Homo sapiens: one gene and its partner. The protein of the gene in region 1 interacts with the protein of each later gene in a biochemical or structural test. Each region holds a gene or a part of one and is shown on either strand. Other genes may lie near its edges.

The links. Proteins that work in one complex are often made in the same cells at the same time.
Region 2: the proteins of PIAS2 (region 1) and MAPK8 form a complex in vitro, tested with the Homo sapiens proteins (one study listed by BioGRID).

Annotation. Positions count from the first base shown.
Region 1 is NC_000018.10:46,911,008-46,914,507, forward strand, and holds part of PIAS2 (E3 SUMO-protein ligase PIAS2), read right to left. Parts: intron 1-3,500. UniProt on the Homo sapiens protein: Functions as an E3-type small ubiquitin-like modifier (SUMO) ligase, stabilizing the interaction between UBE2I and the substrate, and as a SUMO-tethering factor.
Region 2 is NC_000010.11:48,421,677-48,425,176, reverse strand, and holds part of MAPK8 (mitogen-activated protein kinase 8), read right to left. Parts: intron 1,090-3,500; coding exon 1,018-1,089; intron 664-1,017; coding exon of another isoform or gene 592-663; intron 1-591. UniProt on the Homo sapiens protein: Serine/threonine-protein kinase involved in various processes such as cell proliferation, differentiation, migration, transformation and programmed cell death.

The sequences.
Region 1 (3,500 bases):
ACCCAGGAGAACAATGTGAAGTAATCCCAGGATGACAGCTGGGTAACAGGTCTACTAAGCTTCCCAAATTAGAAAAGGCAGGCCAAGACTCCGGAAAGTCTACCAAGACAAGCTGAATGGCTACAACATGAGAACCCATTATAATATTAAATTTTAAAAATAACTTCAATGAGCTTTCCTCATTCAACCAGGACTTTGTTATATTTCTTTTTTTTTTTTTTTTCCTGAGACGAAGCCTTGCTTTGTCACCCAGCCTGGAGTGCAATGACATGATCTTGGCTCACTGCAACCTCCACCTCCCGGGTTCAAGCAATTCTCCTGCCTCAGCCTCCCGAGTAGCTGGGATTACAGGTGCCCACCACCACGTCGGGCTAATTTTTGCATTTTTAGTAGAGACGGGGTTTCACCATGTTAGCCAGGCTGGTCTCTAACTCCTGACCTGAGGCGATCCGCCTGCCTGGGCCTCTCAAAGTGCTGGGCTTACAGACGTGAGCCACTGTGCCCGGCTGACTTTGTTATATTTCCTTTTTAAGGATCACAGGTTTAACAGAAGTGAAGTTTCTCTATGGCTCCACAGTACTTGGTTCTATAGTAACTAATACTCATGTCAACATACATATTTAAAAGAGTGGCTATTAGTACTCAATTTCTAGATTTTCCTGCAGAAGCACAGAAAACTTTAGAAGAGTTATAAAACATTATATAAATGCAATAAATCTTGCCAATGTAACAGTACTAACCAAAAACAAAGGCTGGGGCCGGGCTCAGCGGCTCATGCCTGTAATCCCACCACTTTGGGAGGCCAAGGGAGGGGGAGTGGATCACCGGAGGTCAGGAGTTCAAGACCAGCCTGACCAACATGGTGAAACCCTGTCTCTATTACAAATACAAAAATTAGCCAGGCATGGTTGCAGGTGCCTGTAATCCCAGCTAATCGCGAGGCTGAGGCAGGAGAATCGCTTGAACCCAGGAGGCGGAGGTTGCAGTGAGCCAAGATGGCGCCATTGCTCTCCAGCCTGGGCAACAAGAGCAAAATCCTGTCTCAAAAAAAAAAGGAAAAAAGAAAACAAAGGCTAGGAAGGGAGGAGGGAAAAACAAAGGCAAGGTTTGGCTTTTAAATCCCAAAAGGAAAGGGATCGGTGTTATATCTTTTTCTGAAAGACCAGGAAGTGAGGAAATATAGTTGTCTCTCAGTATCCGTAGGGGGCTGGTACCAGGGTCCCCTGCAGATACCAAAATCCAAGAATGCTCAAGTCTCTTACATGAAATGGCATAGTATTTGCATATAAGCTATACACATCCTCCTACGTACTTTACATCATTTCTAGTTTACAATACCTAATATATGGCAAATGCTATGAAATGGTTGTTATACTATACTGTTTAGGAAATACTGACAAGGAAAAAAGTCTGTACATGTTCAGTACAGATGTAACCAACCTTTTTTCCTGAATATTTTTGATCCAAGGTTGGTTGAAACCAAAGATAAGTCATTCACAGACATGAAGGGCCAAATATACTGTCTAAAAGTGATAGGTCAATAAACAGAAATTTATAATAAAAAGTTAAAAATAACAGCAAAATTAGGAACCAAAATGTAACTGATAGAAATCAAAGTCTAGGACAGGTGGAAAATGACCTAAATTTCTTATCTAGCAAAAAGTTAAGAAATATTTTTTTTGAGTTGAAAAAATATAGAGAGAAAGGCATGGTATATTTTTAGACTTTTGGAACAACAATAAAACCCTAAAAACAAACAAACAAAAATGGTTAAAAGCATAATGGGAGTGGGATTTAATGGAAAAGGGAAGACTTTCACTATTTTGAATTTTTTCAGTACTGTCTGCACAAATATTGCTTTCATTTAAAAAATATGAGAAATGGAAATGAGAGAATAAAAAATGTGACATCAGGTGATCCACCCGCCCCAGGCTCCCAAAATGCTGAGATTACAGCCTTGAGCCACTGCGCCCAGCCTATTTCACTTTAAGTTAAATATATTTTGTTTCGAACGTGCTTTCATAGACATGAGCTCAGGTGAAGCCTTGGAAATTTTAGTTGCATCCCATAATAGCTTTGAATCATATGGAAGATTCTGTTATATCTATCATAGCTATTAGTCTGTATCCCTGCCCAATAAATGGGGAGAGGAGCGTGATGAGGACCTCTAACCTCAAATCCCCCATTAACTTCCCATTCTCCTGCTGCATCCTAACAGCACTTGAAGTTATCAGGATGGTGACTCCTGGTAGGTGTAAGGAAACCAAACACTTAAGCCTTCTAGACAGAAGACCTTCTGTTACAGAATTACTTAGGCTTCTTAGCATGAAAGACCCAAATCTGATCTTCGAATTATGACACAACAAATTTACCCAGTTTGGTAAATGTTCTGGTTTACCCAGTATCTATTGATAAAGTTATCATCGCTGGCTCTCTCAGGCCAAATGCACAACCAGATTCTCACAGGCACATTCTCTCTCATTCTGAGACACACACAGAATAAATTCTCAATGCATGAAAAGAAGGGGATGAAGAATACAGAAGGGAGATCCTTAAAAAAAAAAAAAAAGTCACTACAATAGATCCCCCTCCTCCCCATTGAGTGATGAGAAGTAGGGAAAGTAGATTAACCAGGTTAAAGTGTAGCAGGGACCTTTTTGTGAATGACTGCCACCAGCAGACCACAATATTGGAAATATGCAACTGGAAGGGTAAAGAAAAAGCTGCTCTGGTTAAAGAAGAGGTAAGTGATTCCAGAAACTCAACTCCTGCTCTCCTCCATCCCTGTGCTTAGCTCTTCTACAGACTAGTTTGAGACAGGGTCTCCCTCTGTCGCTCAGGCTGGAGTGCAGTGTCAAGATCAGAGCTAGCTGTAACCCAGAAATCCTGGCTTCAAGCGATCCTCTTGCCTCTCAAAGCGCTGGAATTACAGGTGTGAGCTACCAAGCCCTGCCCTCCAGACCATTTTTGGAGGAGGAAGCAAGGCAGCAGTGACAGAAGTTCAGGCCATCAAATCTTATGATCTTGTCCCACATTAATTCACAACTAGTTAATTCAAAATCTGTTCATTCACAAACTAATCACTCCTTCAGCTCCTAACAACACAGATGCCATAAATAAGCAACTGGTAAATTGAGTAATTTCTTCTCTGGCACCTTGAAAGCTTCTAATATATAACACATTATTGTAACCATCTTTGAGCACACAGGCCACATTTTCCCTTTTCAGAGAACTTCCCCACTTCCTTTCCTTCAATCCATCAGGATAATCTGCTGATCAGGTTTGTGTGCTTTGACTCTAAGCCCCCGGCTATGGATGATTAGAACAGAAGTAGAGACCTAAACTCAGCCAATCAGATTCTCTCTCCCAGAAGAACTGGAAGAGAGGTGGGCTGGTATTCTGGTCACCCGGACTGAAAGGCAACAAGGTATAGAGCTGCCATATTCTGCTATGACCAGCCAAGATCTCTGGTACTGGCTCACGCAGCAGTCTCCAAAACT
Region 2 (3,500 bases), on another chromosome or scaffold:
GAAACAATTCTAAGTGTTACTAGCTGGTAAACACATAACAAATCACTGTTAATATAAATATTAAAAGTAGTGGGATGAACAAAAAGTATGAATCCAAAGCTATCGTTACCATACAAAACTACTACTGCTGAAATTCTCAGATGAAAGGGTCAGTATGTTATGTGAGTAATGAGACAACAATCAAAAGACACAAACCACACAGAACATTAACAAAAAGGAGGTAGGGGACAAAACAAAAGGATGGCCAGAAGCAACAGACAGCTCCAAAATTCATATTAAGTTGTACGTATTTCTAGACTTAAGTGTATAATTATTATAAATTTTTAATGCAAGCCATGATTTTTGATTTAGGTTAAATCAACTCAAAGCCAGCAAGTAATTGTGCATAATTACAATTGAGCAGGGTTCAGAATTAACATATGAAACAATAAATAACGGAAGGAAAAGTCTATGTCAAATAGTAGGTGGTATTTTAAGAGTAATTTAACAATATATTAGGGAGAGACAAAATACATTATACCTGACCAAACTGAAGTGCTATCATACATTTTGACCTTTAGAAACTACATTTTAGGCCAAAGATAAGGATACGATCTGTACCTGGGAACAAAACACCACCTTTGATCATTTCTCCCATGATGCACCCAACTGACCAAATGTCAACTGAAAACAAAATGCAATGACATTAACATAAAGATTTTGGTTAAAATAAAAAAAAAAAGAAAGAAATAAAATCACACACACCATGTATACTTTAAAATTATAAAAAGCAGTATAAAATAAAAATGAGTGACAGTGAATGTGCTCTGACTACCAGCAGAGACTGTATGTCCTACTGCCAGATGCAGCCTACAAATATTTCAGCTTCTTATCTCAACAATTTTTGAACTATAATAGCCACAAACTTTATGCCTGTTTAAAAACCCATCTGTGTAAATGTAGCATATTCATTTTCATTAGAGAACATAAAGAAGTTCATCGCCTAACTAATTAACTGCTGCAGCAGCACAAGGATACAGTCCCTTCCTGGAAAGAGGATTTTGTGGCAAACCATTTCTCCCATAATGCACCCCACAGACCATAAATCCACTATATGTTTGCAGCACAAAAGAAGGAAAAGCAAAGCAAAAGGTCATTAAAATCAAAGAAGCATAATATGACTGCATTATATAAAAACTGCAAAACGTCACGAAAAGAAAAAAAGTGATTGTAACTTTAGCTAACGGAATAATTTAAAACACAAATTATTTTTTGAAAGTCTGGTTCACAAAAGAAAATGTAAAGTGTGGCATTTTAACTACATATCTAATTTCAAAGTGAGAGCTATGCACAGAAATTGCATAAATAGAAAAACCCTGCATGTTTGTCCCTGAGAACTTGTTTATAAAATATGAAATAGAACCAAACACAAACTTTGTAAATAAAAATGTACATGAGGTAGTAAAATTATAAAAATAAAATTGTTATACTATACTATTTAGAAGTTCAACTGTGCATTATACTCTCTAAGAAAAAAGCATGAGAAAATAATTCAGCATATTAAAATATCTAACAGAAATAATCTCTATGAATAATTATGATAAAAAAGTTAATCTAAAGCTCTTTGGAATTTTTAAACTGGATTTCCCAAATACATTTAACTGAGAAGTGCTATGCTTGTTCTGAATTAAAAGTCCATTTGTTTTCTTGGCAACATCATGCTACATTTACCCTACTATCCCAAAAGGAACAAGTGCACAGAGAATGAACAACTAATCAAGGAAAACTTAGTAAGAGAAATGTATTTCATGTTTCCTACCTAAAGTTTTTTAAACCCATAAAACCAAACTGCTTTTGGCTTAAGAAGTTAGTTTTGGCTAGATACAGTAAGTCAGTTCCCACGAATTGAGTATGAAGAGTCTCCTGGAAGACTTACTGATGACCCTTGCCAACTGTAAATGGGAATCCCAATCAATGTTGACAAGAATCTGCTAGACACAGAAACAGACAATTTGGAATCTCCACTTACTAAGGGAAACTGACAACACATCGTGGCATTTTATGCCTTTGGGTTTGAACATCACACAAAAAGGAGAGAGTAAGTGCTTGCAGTGTAACAGGAAAAGAGGGAAGAATGAGCAATTTAGAAGGAAAAGCCTTAGAAACTTGCATTTAGTTGTGACATCTGAAGGTCCCAATTCTTTAAAATGACAAGTGGAAAACGGCACAAATAGATGTCAGAAAGACACGTGCCCTTTACTCATGTTAAAGGACTTAGAAAATTAAAGCCTGTACTTTCTAATACAGTACATTCTTATTAAAAGGCTGCCAGTTCACTGAAGAGTCTTAAGAGCTAAACTGGAAATTACTTTTGGAAATACTGTGGAACTAAAGTTTCCCTAAAATGTCATATTAAAATGAATGAATATTTTCATATTTATGTCATGGTTCAGCTTTCAAGGATAAGATTTTAGAAAAAAAATTTAATATTTATAAATTAGTGCCTCAGAGAAAAATTTTTTCTAAGGTTTCCGTTTTTGACAAAAATCTATTAGAATAAATCTTCTCTACAGATTTTATAGAGAATGTTAAACTTTAAATATCCAGCTTACAACTTATTTGGTAACTTTCAGAAAAGCTCATTTTTAAACAAAAGTATTTTGAAAGCTGCAAGCATGAGAGAAGATATTATCTGGGCCAGTGAAGACTAGGAACATAAGTCTGATTCATGCACAACTCTAGCTGTAAACTAACTGCTTAGTCTATTAAGCAGTTAAAAATATATTGATTACACTGCTTTCCAAAATGCTCTGAGTAGCCTGCAATAAAAGGTACATAAAGCAAAGTTGTTAAAATGGGTGGGAGGCCAGGCGTTGTGGCTCAAACTCCTGTAATCCCAGCACTTTGGGAGGCTGAGGCAGGTGGATCACCTAAGGTCAGGAGTTCAAGACCAGCCTGGCCAACATAATGAGACCCTGTCTCTACTAAAAATACAAAAATTAGCCAGGCATGGTGGCACATGCCTATAGTCCCAGCTACTCGTAGGCTGAAGCAGGAGAATGGCTTGAAGCCAGGAGGTGGAGGCTGCAGTGAGCCAAGATGGCATGACTGTACTCCAGCCTGGGCAACAGAGTGAGACTCCATCTCAAAAATAAATAAATAAATAAATAAATAAATAAATAAATAAATAAGATAAATAAAATGAGTGTGAGGTGTCATTAAAAGGAGGAAGTACTTATGTTTAACCTTGCTGGCTAATGTAGTTATAATCATTAAGCATTACATTTGACTCCGTTTCCTAGGGTGGGAGTGGGAAGGCAAGAAGGTGATCTACATAATTCTTAACTAAAGAGGAACCATATGTCAGTTCATTTTTTATTCTATTTTATTTTTTGAGACAGAGTCTTGCTTTGTCGCCCAGGCTGGAATGCAGTGGTGCAATCTCGGCTCACTGTAACCTCCACCTCCCGGGTTCAAGCGATTCTCATGCCTCACCTCCAGAATAGCTGGGATTACAGGTG